Homo sapiens: one gene and its partners. The protein of the gene in region 2 purifies or fractionates together with the protein of the main gene of each other region. This does not show direct contact. Each region holds a gene or a part of one and is shown on either strand. Other genes may lie near its edges.

What was found.
Region 1: the proteins of B3GALNT1 (region 2) and CST4 purify together in Homo sapiens (affinity purification with mass spectrometry; 3 studies listed by BioGRID and IntAct, with this or other methods). This does not show direct contact.
Region 3: the proteins of B3GALNT1 (region 2) and FUT8 purify together in Homo sapiens (affinity purification with mass spectrometry; 3 studies listed by BioGRID and IntAct, with this or other methods). This does not show direct contact.
Region 4: the proteins of B3GALNT1 (region 2) and DSG4 purify together in Homo sapiens (affinity purification with mass spectrometry; 3 studies listed by BioGRID and IntAct, with this or other methods). This does not show direct contact.

What each region holds. Positions count from the first base shown.
Region 1 is NC_000020.11:23,686,239-23,690,195, reverse strand, and holds the start of CST4 (cystatin-S precursor), read left to right. Parts: upstream 1-1,157; 5' UTR 1,158-1,226; coding exon 1,227-1,454; intron 1,455-2,994; coding exon 2,995-3,108; intron 3,109-3,957. UniProt on the Homo sapiens protein: This protein strongly inhibits papain and ficin, partially inhibits stem bromelain and bovine cathepsin C, but does not inhibit porcine cathepsin B or clostripain. Papain is inhibited non-competitively.
Region 2 is NC_000003.12:161,083,383-161,085,866, reverse strand, and holds the end of B3GALNT1 (UDP-GalNAc:beta-1,3-N-acetylgalactosaminyltransferase 1), read left to right. Parts: coding exon 1-108; 3' UTR 109-1,984; downstream 1,985-2,484. UniProt on the Homo sapiens protein: Transfers N-acetylgalactosamine onto globotriaosylceramide. Plays a critical role in preimplantation stage embryonic development.
Region 3 is NC_000014.9:65,720,230-65,723,729, reverse strand, and holds part of FUT8 (alpha-(1,6)-fucosyltransferase), read right to left. Parts: intron 1,956-3,500; coding exon 1,709-1,955; intron 1-1,708. UniProt on the Homo sapiens protein: Catalyzes the addition of fucose in alpha 1-6 linkage to the first GlcNAc residue, next to the peptide chains in N-glycans.
Region 4 is NC_000018.10:31,411,277-31,414,776, forward strand, and holds part of DSG4 (desmoglein-4 isoform 2 preproprotein), read left to right. Parts: coding exon 1-172; intron 173-1,551; coding exon 1,552-2,319; 3' UTR 2,320-3,500.

The DNA.
Region 1 (3,957 bases), on a different chromosome or scaffold from region 2:
ACTGGCTGTTCCCCGCTGCCTGGGGCTGCTCAACCTCTCCAGTCTCATAGAGACCACCCTGACCAGGGTCCAGTGGTCTCTCTCTAGCCCCTGTTCTATTTCACTTCCAACAGAGTGAGTATAACTCCCTGATCCTAATTGTTGATCGTAACCTACCATCCTCTACACACACTGTGTAGGAATTTACTGTGCAGTTCCACAGCCACCAGCCACATGTGCCACAGGACACTTGAAATGGGGCCAGTCCAAAATGATTCCTGGGCTAAGTGTAAAAAATACACAGGGAATTTCAAAGATTTACAAAACCAAAAAAAAAAAACACACATAAACGATCTCATTAATAATTGTTCCCGTTAGCTGAAATAATATTGTGGCTATATTAGGTTAAATAAATATTTTAAACATTACTTTCACCCATTTATTCTCATCTTTTAAAATGCATCTACTAGAAATTTTCAAATGCTTGTGGGTTCATGTCACATCTCTGTGGGCAGCAGCTCTGCAATGTCACCTCTATGGCTCATCATCCAGGTTCCGTCTTCAAGCCCTAGACCTCCTGGCATGGGCAGTAACTGGTGATAGGTTTGTTTATTGAATAATGAGTTATGAAAACAGAAGCCAGTGACCTTTTCCAAAAAGGTTAATTCCCTTAAATTTGGCAAAGAAATTCTCCATATTAGGGTGTGGACAGGGTCTTCTGGAACCTTCTGAAATAACCTCTCTGTTCCAGAGATTCAGAGACCGTGACCAAGTGCTCCTGGAAGCCTCTGATATCTGAAGACCCCGGGAGGCCAAGCCCTGTATTTTTCCCCTTTCTGAGCAAACAGGAAGTCACATTGCTTTCACAGTCAAAGGACCAGTGTCACCTCTGTGGAGACCTGGGTGACTCAAGCTTGGGAGCACTGGGGAAGAGAGGCATGGCTCAGGGAGGCTGCAGTGAGGACTGGAGTGGGGAGGAGGGGGAGATGGAGGAGGAGGCCTGGGAGGGGCAGGGGGAACTTAGGCAGGGAGGGAGCTTGTAGTGGTGGGGGAGTGAAAAGAGAGATGGAGAAAGAGGGGATGGGCAGAAAGAGGAGGAGGAGTCAGGGGCAGGGCATGGAGGTGGGTGGGGCTGGGCTGCCAAAGCAGGATAAATGCACACCTGCCTGCTGGTCTGGGCTCCCTGCCTCGGGCTCTCACCCTCCTCTCCTGCAGCTCCAGCTTTGTGCTCTGCCTCTGAGGAGACCATGGCCCGGCCTCTGTGTACCCTGCTACTCCTGATGGCTACCCTGGCTGGGGCTCTGGCCTCGAGCTCCAAGGAGGAGAATAGGATAATCCCAGGTGGCATCTATGATGCAGACCTCAATGATGAGTGGGTACAGCGTGCCCTTCACTTCGCCATCAGCGAGTACAACAAGGCCACCGAAGATGAGTACTACAGACGCCCGCTGCAGGTGCTGCGAGCCAGGGAGCAGGTGGGTGCTGCCTCCACCCGAGGGGTCCTGAGCCCTAGCCTGGTTTGTTGCCGGACCCCCAAGAGCATTCCAAGCAAATCAACACTGACACATTCATGATCTAATGCTCAGATTCATTCAGCTTTCTCTGACTCTCCGCTGATGCCCTTCATGCCTAAGCATGCTCCCGGTCCATGCACTGCAGACAGTTAAAGGAAGTGCTGCAGCTTCCTTTAACCTGCAGCAGCTGCTGTGTCTGTACCATGACCGTGGCATTTCCCAGCGTCCAGCAGGTGTGGATGGAGACTGTGCTGACTCTGGGTGGGCTTGATGCTGCTCAGGATGAGATCCAGGCGGTGAGGCTCATTCTCCTCCCTGAGTCCTCTCCTCAGGGGCCACATGGGAACCTGGCTCCCTGTTCTGCAGAGCCCTTCTTCCTTCCCCAAGTCATGCCCTTGGGCACAGCCCCTTAGGGCTAGTGGCCTTCACCCTCAGGCAGGCTGACCCACCCCTGCAGGCCAGGATGGCTGAGTCCCTGCTGGGGTGGAGCACGCCTGGCCCTGCCTCTACGAGCTGATGCAGAGTTAGACCTCAGCCAGATGAGGACAGCAGTCACCCAGCAGAGCAGAGGAGGGGTTAGGTCCAGAGTGAGCTTCAGCAGGGCAACTGGGCCCAGCTTGACCTGCATCCCATGGCAGAGCAGCAAATAGTGACACAGCCTTTAGAGCTCCTCCACCTTCTAGAAATTCAAAGGAATCCAGACCAGTCCCGTTTCTCCTCCTACAGCTGTCAGCTGGAGCCCTCACCCTGCACAGGAGGTGCACTCCCTGGTGCCATGGTCCCCGCTGGCCTGCATCTCCCTCTTAAGCATGACAGTAACTTGGAGTGAAGCACAGGGCATTGCAGACCATCAGACCTGGAAGCCTATTTTATACATGGGTAAACTGATACTCGAGGGATCTCAGCAGTTCCTCCTGGTTCCAAAGAGTCCCTCATCCCAGGTTTCTCCACAGCTCTGCCACGTAGTGTCTGGGAGAGGCCCTGTGCAGGGAAAGGGTTCAATTATAATCTGCAATTGTAAGACACTCAGGTGTGCTGCTGACTTGAGAAACGTATCTTGAACCTCACACTTGAAATGGTGGCATCTGGGCGGCCCCATTGACCCAAAATATCTGTGTGTGTGAAGCATCTCATTTCCTACTCTAAGTGAAGTAATAAATCTAGGTTAAATGGAGGGAATAAGATTTTCGTGAGTTAGCTGAAATTTTGTCATCAGACAGCCTTCCTAGAAAAGAGTCAGTGTTCCCTCACCCCTGAGCCACAGGTAGCAGAATTCAATGAATCCTCTTACCCAGCACAGAGAAAACGATGTTTAAGAGCGGGCATGAGGCTCAGCACCCTGCCAGCTGACAGGAAGAGGGGGCTTGTGTGCCTTGTGTTGACATGTGGGCAGCTCACGAAGCCCCCAAGCAAGTCCAGTGACTCAGCCACAGTGAAGTGCCTGTGAGTGCATGAACTGATGGGGGCGCTGTCCGTGCTTCCTGTTTTCTCCTGTGTGCAGACCTTTGGGGGGGTGAATTACTTCTTCGACGTAGAGGTGGGCCGCACCATATGTACCAAGTCCCAGCCCAACTTGGACACCTGTGCCTTCCATGAACAGCCAGAACTGCAGAAGGTACGTTCCTGATGCGGGTCCCGGGCCAGTCATGCACTGCAGAGGGGTGCGTATGTGTCAGCCTCTGTCCTACCCATGTTTGGACGGTGTGTGTGTGCAGGTGGGTATGTGGGGAGCCGTGTATGCATGGATGTGTACGTGTTCATGTACTTATGGGGGGGTGTGCATGTAGGTGTGCATGTGGAAAGGTGCACGTGTGTACACACATGTGCCAGTGTGTGCGGGTAGGTGTATGGAAGCATGTGTGCCTGTGTGTGGGTGTGTGGCGGAAGTATGGGGGTTTGTACATAGATCCATGGGGATGAGGGGTCCAAGTGAGTTTACGTAGTTGCCTATGTGTGTGCAGATGGGGTGGTGAGGGAGGGGGTGATGTGTTTGATTTGCTAGGAAGGCTTTAGCTTGGGAATGGTTACTAGAAGGTCAACTGCCTGCTTTGGGGTGTTGCCTGTTGGACAGGAAGAATCACCTGCGGGGCTGGGTGCTGGGCAGGGAGAAGGGGATCTGTCTAATCCCAGCCTCAGGCACCTGCATGCAGCCAAAGCCACAATCAGATTAGTGGGACCTAGAGGCCTGTTAGCTGGGAAGCCCTGGACCTGCCCGGCTCACCCAACACCAGCCTCTCCAAGAACCTGCTGGTTCTTGTGAGGTCTCCACTCAGGGGAGAGCGGCACTCCCCTTGTTGCCCTTGACCCATGCCCCAGCTCTTTGAGGGGGAGTTGCCCTGCCCTGGGTTCTTCCCTCTGGCCCCTCTTAGTGCTGGCCTGGGTGCTGGAGGTGGAAGGAGCTGGGGGAACTGAGCCACCTCCCCATGTCCTGCACCCTTGGGGCTCCCGAGGCCTTGCCCAGGCT
Region 2 (2,484 bases):
TTGGATGTCTGTCAACTGAGACGTGTGATTGCAGCCCATGGCTTTTCTTCCAAGGAGATCATCACTTTTTGGCAGGTCATGCTAAGGAACACCACATGCCATTATTAACTTCACATTCTACAAAAAGCCTAGAAGGACAGGATACTTTGTGGAAAGTGTTAAATAAAGTAGGTACTGTGGAAAATTCATGGGGAGGTCAGTGTGCTGGCTTACACTGAACTGAAACTCATGAAAAACCCAGACTGGAGACTGGAGGGTTACACTTGTGATTTATTAGTCAGGCCCTTCAAAGATGATATGTGGAGGAATTAAATATAAAGGAATTGGAGGTTTTTGCTAAAGAAATTAATAGGACCAAACAATTTGGACATGTCATTCTGTAGACTAGAATTTCTTAAAAGGGTGTTACTGAGTTATAAGCTCACTAGGCTGTAAAAACAAAACAATGTAGAGTTTTATTTATTGAACAATGTAGTCACTTGAAGGTTTTGTGTATATCTTATGTGGATTACCAATTTAAAAATATATGTAGTTCTGTGTCAAAAAACTTCTTCACTGAAGTTATACTGAACAAAATTTTACCTGTTTTTGGTCATTTATAAAGTACTTCAAGATGTTGCAGTATTTCACAGTTATTATTATTTAAAATTACTTCAACTTTGTGTTTTTAAATGTTTTGACGATTTCAATACAAGATAAAAAGGATAGTGAATCATTCTTTACATGCAAACATTTTCCAGTTACTTAACTGATCAGTTTATTATTGATACATCACTCCATTAATGTAAAGTCATAGGTCATTATTGCATATCAGTAATCTCTTGGACTTTGTTAAATATTTTACTGTGGTAATATAGAGAAGAATTAAAGCAAGAAAATCTGAAGTATTGTCTTGTTTTTAAAAAATACAGTTCCTAGTGTTTTTAGAAGTCACTTAATTTGTCTCATTTTTCCACCTGGAAATTAGGAATAATGTAGAATGCAAGGCAGTAATTTCCTTTTGGAAAGGACTCTGAAGGCAGAAAAGAAGGGAGAGAACCTCATGGGCAGAATATTATAAAAAGAGTGTCATATTCCAGCATTTGAATTGGAAAGAGAAGAGTGAAGATCCAAGTTGCATTATTAATCTGCCCTGTGTTTTTTCCTTTTAACAATCAGTTTGAGCTGCTGCTGTTATGAGTTTCTCATCAAGATGAAAGCCCTAATATGTAAAGTCAAATCCGATTTAAATTTTGTGCTTTTATAGAAAGAAATTTCTTCATAGACGTGGTGATATATCATTTGTTGGACCTGCTAATAGTAGGTCAAAGGGGAGCACTCCTTGCCCCCTGTTCCTGGGTTTATGCAGTTTTCTTTTTAGAGTTTATATAGGGCAAGTGGTTCTTTTTCTCTGAATTACAGGATGGAAAAAGGTCATATCCTTTGTCAGGAAATATAAACTTGAAAGTATGTAGTCAGCTCTTGTAATACTCATATTTATGATTGTCCTATATGAAAAACAACTTCAGTTAAAACTATAATGTGTGATTCTGTATAACAAGGTGATGTCTGTTTCCCAGGGCTCAGACCTAATCCAGTTATAATAAAATCAATTAAATGAAATATTCTATAGAATCGATCTATGCCCTTGTTAATCTCCATCCATATAGGAGTCACGTTCTTTAAGACAGATGGTGGTAGTTATTTTTGTGGCATGGTTAGATTTGACTGGTTTTGCAGAAGATTACAGTTATGTACTGCATAATGACATATACAATAGTGGTCCCATAAAATTATAATGGAGCAGAAAATCTATTGCCTCATGATGTTTTAGCCGTTTTAATGTCATAGCCTAGTGCATTACTCACGTGTCTGTGGAGATGCTGGTGTAAACAAACCTACTACACTGCCAGTTGTATAAAAGTACAGCACATTCAGTTATGTACAGTATGTAATACTGATAATGACAATAAATGACACCGGTTTGTGTATTTACTTTTTATAATTAGAGTGTTCTATTCCTACTTATTAAAAAAATGTTTAATAGAGCCTTGGGCAGGTCCTTCAGGAGGTATTCCAGAAGAAAGCATTGTTATCATAGGAGATGACAGCTCCATTCATGCTATTTCTCCTGAAGACCTTCCAGTGAGACAAGATGTGGTGATAGAAGACAGTGATACTGATGATCCTGACCCTGTGGGCCTAGGCTAATGTGTGTGTTTGTGTCTTAAGTTTTTAACAAAGTTTAAAAAGTAGAAAAATAAAGTTTAAAATAGGAAAAAACTTACAGAATAAGGATATAAAGATATTTTTGTGCAGTTTTACAAGATGTTTGTGTTTTAAATTTAAGCTAAGTGTCAAAAAACTTTGACAAAAGAGTCAAAGTTTGAAAGTTTGTAAAGTTAAGTTACGGTGAGTTAAGGTTAATTACTGAAGAAAGAAAATTGTTAAATGAATTTAGTGTGGCCTACTTTAAATGTGCCATGTTTGTAAAGTCTACAGTAG
Region 3 (3,500 bases), on a different chromosome or scaffold from region 2:
TTGTAAAGTTCTGATACCAAGGGTTTTCCTCTTTATTTTACCCTGGAGAGTCACCATAACTGCCAGCTTGTAGAACTTAAAAGTTGTCCCAGGAAAACATAGACCTGGATAAACTTTTACAGCACCGTTAAGACCAGCAAACCTTTTAACGGTTTTTACTATTTTAGGTAAATGAAACCGATTCCAGCCCTTCTGTTGTGGGCATAATGCATTTCCTTTCTCTGTTTTTCACCATATCAAATGACAGCAGATATTAATTTCACCTGTCATATTTAAGAAAAGCCCCAAAATTGTAAAATTGGGGACACAGATTCACACTTCCCTGTACTGAATAAGGCACTGACTTCCACAGTTTTCTCCTCTCTCCTCCCATCTTAGTGTTTCCAAAGTAATTTTTTTTTTTTTAAGACAAGGTCTTGCTCTGTTGCACACATTGGAGTGCAGTGGCGTGATTATGGTTCACTCCAATCTCTGCCTCCCAGGCTCAAGTGATCCTCTCACCTCAGCCTCCCGAACAGCTGGTACTACAGGCATGTGTCACCAAGCCTGGCTAATTTTTGCTTTTTTTTTTTTTTTTAATTGATGGGGTTTCAACCATGTTGCCTATGTTGAGTTTTCTCAAACTTCTGGGCTCAAGTGATCCACTTGCCTCAGCCTCCCAGTGTTGTGATTACAGGCATGAGCCACTATGCCTGGCCCCAAAGCAATATTAATGGAAATAAAAATAACAGTTTATTTTCATAAATTAAAACACCCTCCTTAAATCTTGCCTTCCCCTCCCCCCAAATTACTAAATCACTATTTATATGTAGAAAAAGGTAGACTTATACGCCTTTAGGTCACAGTATATGGGCCAAACTTAAGGCCAGTTTTTTATTATGAATCTGGAGTGAAGGTTTGATTTCACCAGAGTTACTCTGCCATCTTCACGGCTATTCTTTGCTTTGCATTCCAGACTATAACCCAGATGTGGATACAATCATATGAACATCTATTCTATCATCTTTCCTTCCCACATCCTTCATAATCACTCTTTTTCTGGGGAAATTGGAATTGTTCAGTGGGCTCTATAGAGATGAAGTGGGCAGAACGAATGATTCCATTGAATTTCAATCAAAAGTTACATGAGAAGAAATACGATTTGATATTCTGACTTCACATGTACCTTCTTTACGTCTAACACTTAGAATGGGGTCAATAACTCCTCTACATATGAAGACTAAGACACAAGGAAAGATGTGGGGTGGGAAATATGAAAATAAAAATAAAAAGAAGCTGGACATGGTGATACATGCCTTTAGACCCAGCTATTATACTTGGGAGGCTGAGGTAGGAGGATCACTTGAGCCCAGGGTGGTTGAGGCTGCAGTGAGCCACTACACTTCAGCCTGGGTGACAGAGTGAGACCCTATCTCAAAAATAACAACAACAAAAGCCAAAAGAGAGCTGTGATAAGAGGAGAAAGAAGCAAAGGAAGAGGAGAACTGGAGACAGTAATAGAGCACTACTAAGCAACTTTCTTAGCTGTTCTAAGTAAACAAACAAAAAAAAATAGTCTCCATGTGACCTTAGGATAGCTCTAGAACCTCTGTCCTTTGGTGGGACTATAAAAATTGAACTACATATTGTAAAATTCACAATATATTGTAAAGATACATAACCCTAACTACTACATATCACAGTTTGAGGGAAAAAATCAGATTCTTACCCAATAACTGGATGTTTGAAGCCAAGCTTCTTGGTGGCTTCTTCTATTTCTTTTTCTAGCCAAGGCTGTGGGCGGATCAAGTATTTGACAAACTGAGACACCCACCACACTGCAGGGTCACCATGCACTCGTACAAGTCGATCTGCGAGGTCTTCTGGTACAGCCAAGGGTAAATATGGAGGACGGGGATGAAGACTGTCTACAATGGGAAGCTCGACCACTTGAACATTTTTGTCCTTCACTTCACCTGACAATATTGAAACATATAATCATTACCACATGGTATTCCTTATACATCCACCATTCAACAAGAACTTATTCTGAGTGCTTTCATCCTCACAGCAACTCTAAAGAAGTATAATCTTCACTTTACAAAGGAAGTTAAATAACTTGCTCGAAATACCAGAGCAAAAGTGACGGAGGTGAATTTCACATGCAGGTTAGTCTATCTCTCAAGTCTCTGGTCTTTTCTAAAAGTTTCTATCATAACATGCTATCATACCAACACCTCATGGTATGCAGAACTCAAAGTATCTAATCAAAGAATGACAGTAGACACAGCCAGCTAGCAAAGTTCTATTTTTTGTTGTTGTTTTGGAATTAGAAAATAAAGTGTTCTCGAAACTTCTAGCTTTTCATTACAGCAAAATTGCTCTTGCATTACTTTCATGACAGAACACAATGACTCTGGAAACACCTGAAGATTATAATTATAAGCCAATCATCTACATCTTTTAAAGAAAAAAATTAGATAATTCTAAAATCTTTTTTTTTTTTAATCTATTGGAGGGAGATGAAGCAAGATGGCTGAATAGAAGCCTCAACCAATCGCTGCCCCCACCACAGGAACACCAAATTTAACAACTATCTACACAAAAAAGCACCTTCACAAGAACCAAAAATCAGGTAAGTGATCACAGTACCTGATTTTAACTTCATATTGCTGAAAGAGACACTGAAGAGAGTAGGAAAGACAGTTTTCGATTGTCTACTACCCCTTCCACCCCCATGCAGTGGCCGTGTGGTGCAAAGAATCTGTGTGCTTGGGGGAGGGGGAGCACAGTGATTGTGGGACTTTGCACTGGAACTCAGTGTTACCATGTCACAGCAGAAAGCAACACCAGGCCAACTGGCAAGCAACACCCGGGCCATTAGCAAAGAACTCAGCCAATGCCCATGGAGGGAGAACTTAGATGTGCCCTAGCCAGAGGGGAAATGTCCATCCCAGCGGTTGGAGCCTGAGTTTCAACAAGCCGCACCACTATAGGCTGAAGTGTCCTGGGGCCCTAAATGAACTTGAAAGGCAGTCTAGGCCACAAGAACTGTAATTTCTAGGCAAGTTTTAGTGCTGTGCTGGGTTCGAGAGTCATTGGACCTAGGGGGCACGTAACCTAGTGAGCCACCAGCTGAGGTGGCTAAGGCAGTGCTTATGCCACCCTTTCCCTAATCTAAGGCAGTGCAGTTCACAGCTCCAAAAGAGACTCCTTCCTTCCACTTGAGCAGTAGAGAGGGAAGAGTAAAGAGGACTTTATCTTGCAACTTGGATAACAGCTCAGCCACAGTGGAACAGAGCACCAAGTGGGCTCTTGGGGTTCCTGATTCCAGACCTTGGCTCTTGTATGGCACTCCTGGACCTGCCTGGGCCAGAAGGGAGCCCAGTGCCCTGAAGGGCAAGTCCCAGGCCTGGCAACATTCACCACAAGCTGACTGAAGAGCCCTTGGGCCTTAAGTGAACATGAACCGTAGCCTGGCAATAATCCCTGTGGGCTTGTAGTGGTGGTGGCCATAGGGA
Region 4 (3,500 bases), on a different chromosome or scaffold from region 2:
TGTATCGGGAGTGGAGCTCAACACAGGTATGGGGACAGCCGTTGGCCTCATGGCCGCAGGGGCCGCAGGAGCCTCAGGGGCCGCAAGGAAGAGGAGCTCTACCATGGGAACCCTGCGGGACTACGCTGACGCAGACATCAACATGGCTTTCTTGGACAGCTACTTCTCGGAGGTAATGCCCTCACAGTCACACATAAAATCGTCTTGAGATTGAATAATAATAATAGTAAAATACTCACAATGGTAGTAGGCCTCTTCGGAAATATGCTGTTATTCTCAACCCTATCCCAAACCTGAATAAAAAGTATTTCACGTCTCCTTAAAACACAAAATGCTAATTTGCCACAGGATTTCATATTCAACTGCCATAGCGCATCTTAGTACCGTGAACAAGGCCACACCCCTCATCATTCTCCACTTCCCTTTTCCATTTTTCTATCTTTTGTTTCCTTGATTCCTCACCTTGTTTCCCACAGCAGTAGCAAAGCAGGAAAATGCTCATCAAGGGGAAAAAAGGTGCATTTATGACCTCTGTTTTTGATGTCCTTCATGTTCTCCCGGAGCCTCCAACAGAAAAGAGAAAATAAAAAGAATTGGGAACGAAAGGAGTTAAAACTCAGGAACGCAGCATCACCACAACTCGTGCTAGATTAAGACCTAGAAGATAGCTCTCCTATTCTCAGTCCAGTGACTTATCCACCAACTGACCTTCACTACGAAAAGGGGTCCAGCAATAGCACTGCTGGGTATATATCCAAAAGAAAGGAAATCAGTATATCAAAGAAATATATGCACCCCCATGTTTATTGCAGCACTAGTCACGTAGCCAATACATGGAATCAACCTGTGTCCATCAACTGATGATTGGACTTCTAAAATGTGATTCATATACCCAATGGAATATTATTCAGCCATAAAAAATGAAATTTTGTCATTTTGCAACAACATGGATGGAACTGGAGGACACTGTTAAGTGAAATATGCCAGGCACAGAAAGACTAATTTGACATGTTCTCACTCATCTGTGGAAGCTAAAAGGAAAAACCGAACTCATGGAGATAGAGAGTAGAATGATGGTTACTAGAGGCTGACAAGGGTAGTAGGGAGGGGAAACAGTGGGATGGTTAATAGGTGCAAAAATACTGTTAGAATGAAGAAGATCTAGTATTTGGTAGCACAACAGGATTGCTATAGTTAACAATAATTTATTACACATTTTAAAAGAACTAAAATAGAACTAGAATTTTATCTCATATTTCAGTCGGCCTGCTTTATTCTCCATCTGTTCATACATGAATTTCACCATGATTCTTTACCAAACAAATGCTGAAGATGTTGTTGCAATTGTAAACTATATCTTAAAATTGGTAGTTACAAATGCTATCACAGAATGTGCATGGATAGTATCAATTATTTTAATGAGTGATTGATACCATTATTCAGTTTATTCCGTAACAACTTAACTCAGAAGTCTCTCTGAGGGATTGCTGTTATTCTTCCTTATTTTAGGGAAAAAGAAATTTCTAATTCTGTATTTCCTTTTAATTTTAGAAAGCGTATGCTTATGCAGATGAAGATGAAGGTCGACCAGCCAATGACTGCTTGCTCATTTATGACCACGAGGGAGTCGGGTCTCCCGTAGGCTCTATTGGTTGTTGCAGTTGGATTGTGGATGACTTAGATGAAAGCTGCATGGAAACTTTAGATCCAAAATTTAGGACTCTTGCTGAGATCTGCTTAAACACAGAAATTGAACCATTTCCTTCACACCAGGCTTGTATACCAATCAGTACTGACCTCCCTTTGCTCGGACCTAATTACTTTGTTAATGAATCTTCAGGATTGACTCCCTCAGAAGTTGAATTCCAAGAAGAAATGGCAGCATCTGAACCCGTGGTCCATGGGGATATTATTGTGACTGAGACTTACGGTAATGCTGATCCATGTGTGCAACCCACTACAATTATTTTTGATCCTCAGCTTGCACCCAATGTTGTAGTAACCGAAGCAGTAATGGCACCTGTCTATGATATTCAAGGGAATATTTGTGTACCTGCTGAGTTAGCAGATTACAACAATGTAATCTATGCTGAGAGAGTACTGGCTAGTCCTGGTGTGCCTGACATGAGCAATAGTAGCACGACTGAGGGTTGTATGGGACCTGTGATGAGCGGCAATATTTTAGTAGGGCCAGAAATTCAAGTGATGCAAATGATGAGTCCAGACCTTCCCATAGGCCAAACCGTTGGCTCCACATCCCCCATGACATCTCGACACAGAGTAACACGATACAGTAACATACATTACACCCAACAGTAAGTGCTTTATGGTCAGTATTCTATGTGGAGACCTTGCACCTTGTAATCATCAATACATCCACCAAAAATATATAATGTACCATATATATTAATAGTCAACAAATACTCAGATATTCTAAGGTCAATGCCATTATTTGATTATACCATTTTGAGGGTGAATATGGCTAGGCACTTTAGATAAGCCTTTTTAAAATTCTTTCTGATTTTAAATAATGCGTCAAAAAATGTGCAGAAAATGTATTGCATCCCTTGATACTGTCTAACGAATAGCACATAACTCATATTGTGAATCCTATGGGTCTTGAGGCCTGTAGAACCAATCTTGTAAACCAAGATGCCTTGTTCTTGGAAGTTACAAAAGAAGCCCTGTCTACATCCACCAGCCATATTTTTCGTTAGGGAAATATTTATATTAAAATTTTTAATTGAAAAGTTGAATGAAATGTACATTCTGAAAGGAAATTGAAAAGGAACGTAGAGTATCTGTCAATATCTTTAGATATCTGAAGTCATTTGTCTCTTCAAAAGATTTTTCAATATTATGCGCTATTAAGCAATAGGAGATGCTTAATATAATAAGAAAAGAGTTTGCCAACTGAAAGCATGGCTGGAAATGGTTCATCAAAGAAAAATATATATTTTTATTGAACTTTATTGATTTATATGATTAACTGTAAATTAATCTAGAATAGCAAAAAAAAATGACAATCCTAAAGTAGAAAGAGTTATTGGGGAAATATTAGAGTTTTCCCCACTTACAGGGAATTTTTTCCCTACTGTTGCCAATTATGTCAGAAAAATACATGAAATATGGCTTAACCAATTTCATTGACCTGAATCGTAGAGCTTTCAATTGGCAACCAGATATTCTCCAAAAGCACTCTGTAGTTATTCATATATTCTACAATATTTACTTAGAAGCAACTAGGTGTTGGGTGCTAGTCTTGGCTCTGTGAATATACAGGTAAAGAAGACAGACATGGTTTCTGCCTTCATAGAGCTTCTATTCATTTCTAGACTTAAAATAAAACTCTGGGATATGGCTTTAAGTTCCTAACAACAATAATTAACCAACTACTTAAGTCCATTACCAAGTTGTGTTTCTCTTTGCAACACTACTGTTTATGTTGAATAAATAAAATGGAAACACATTGCTTACTTTTCGTAGGCATAAAGCTGACT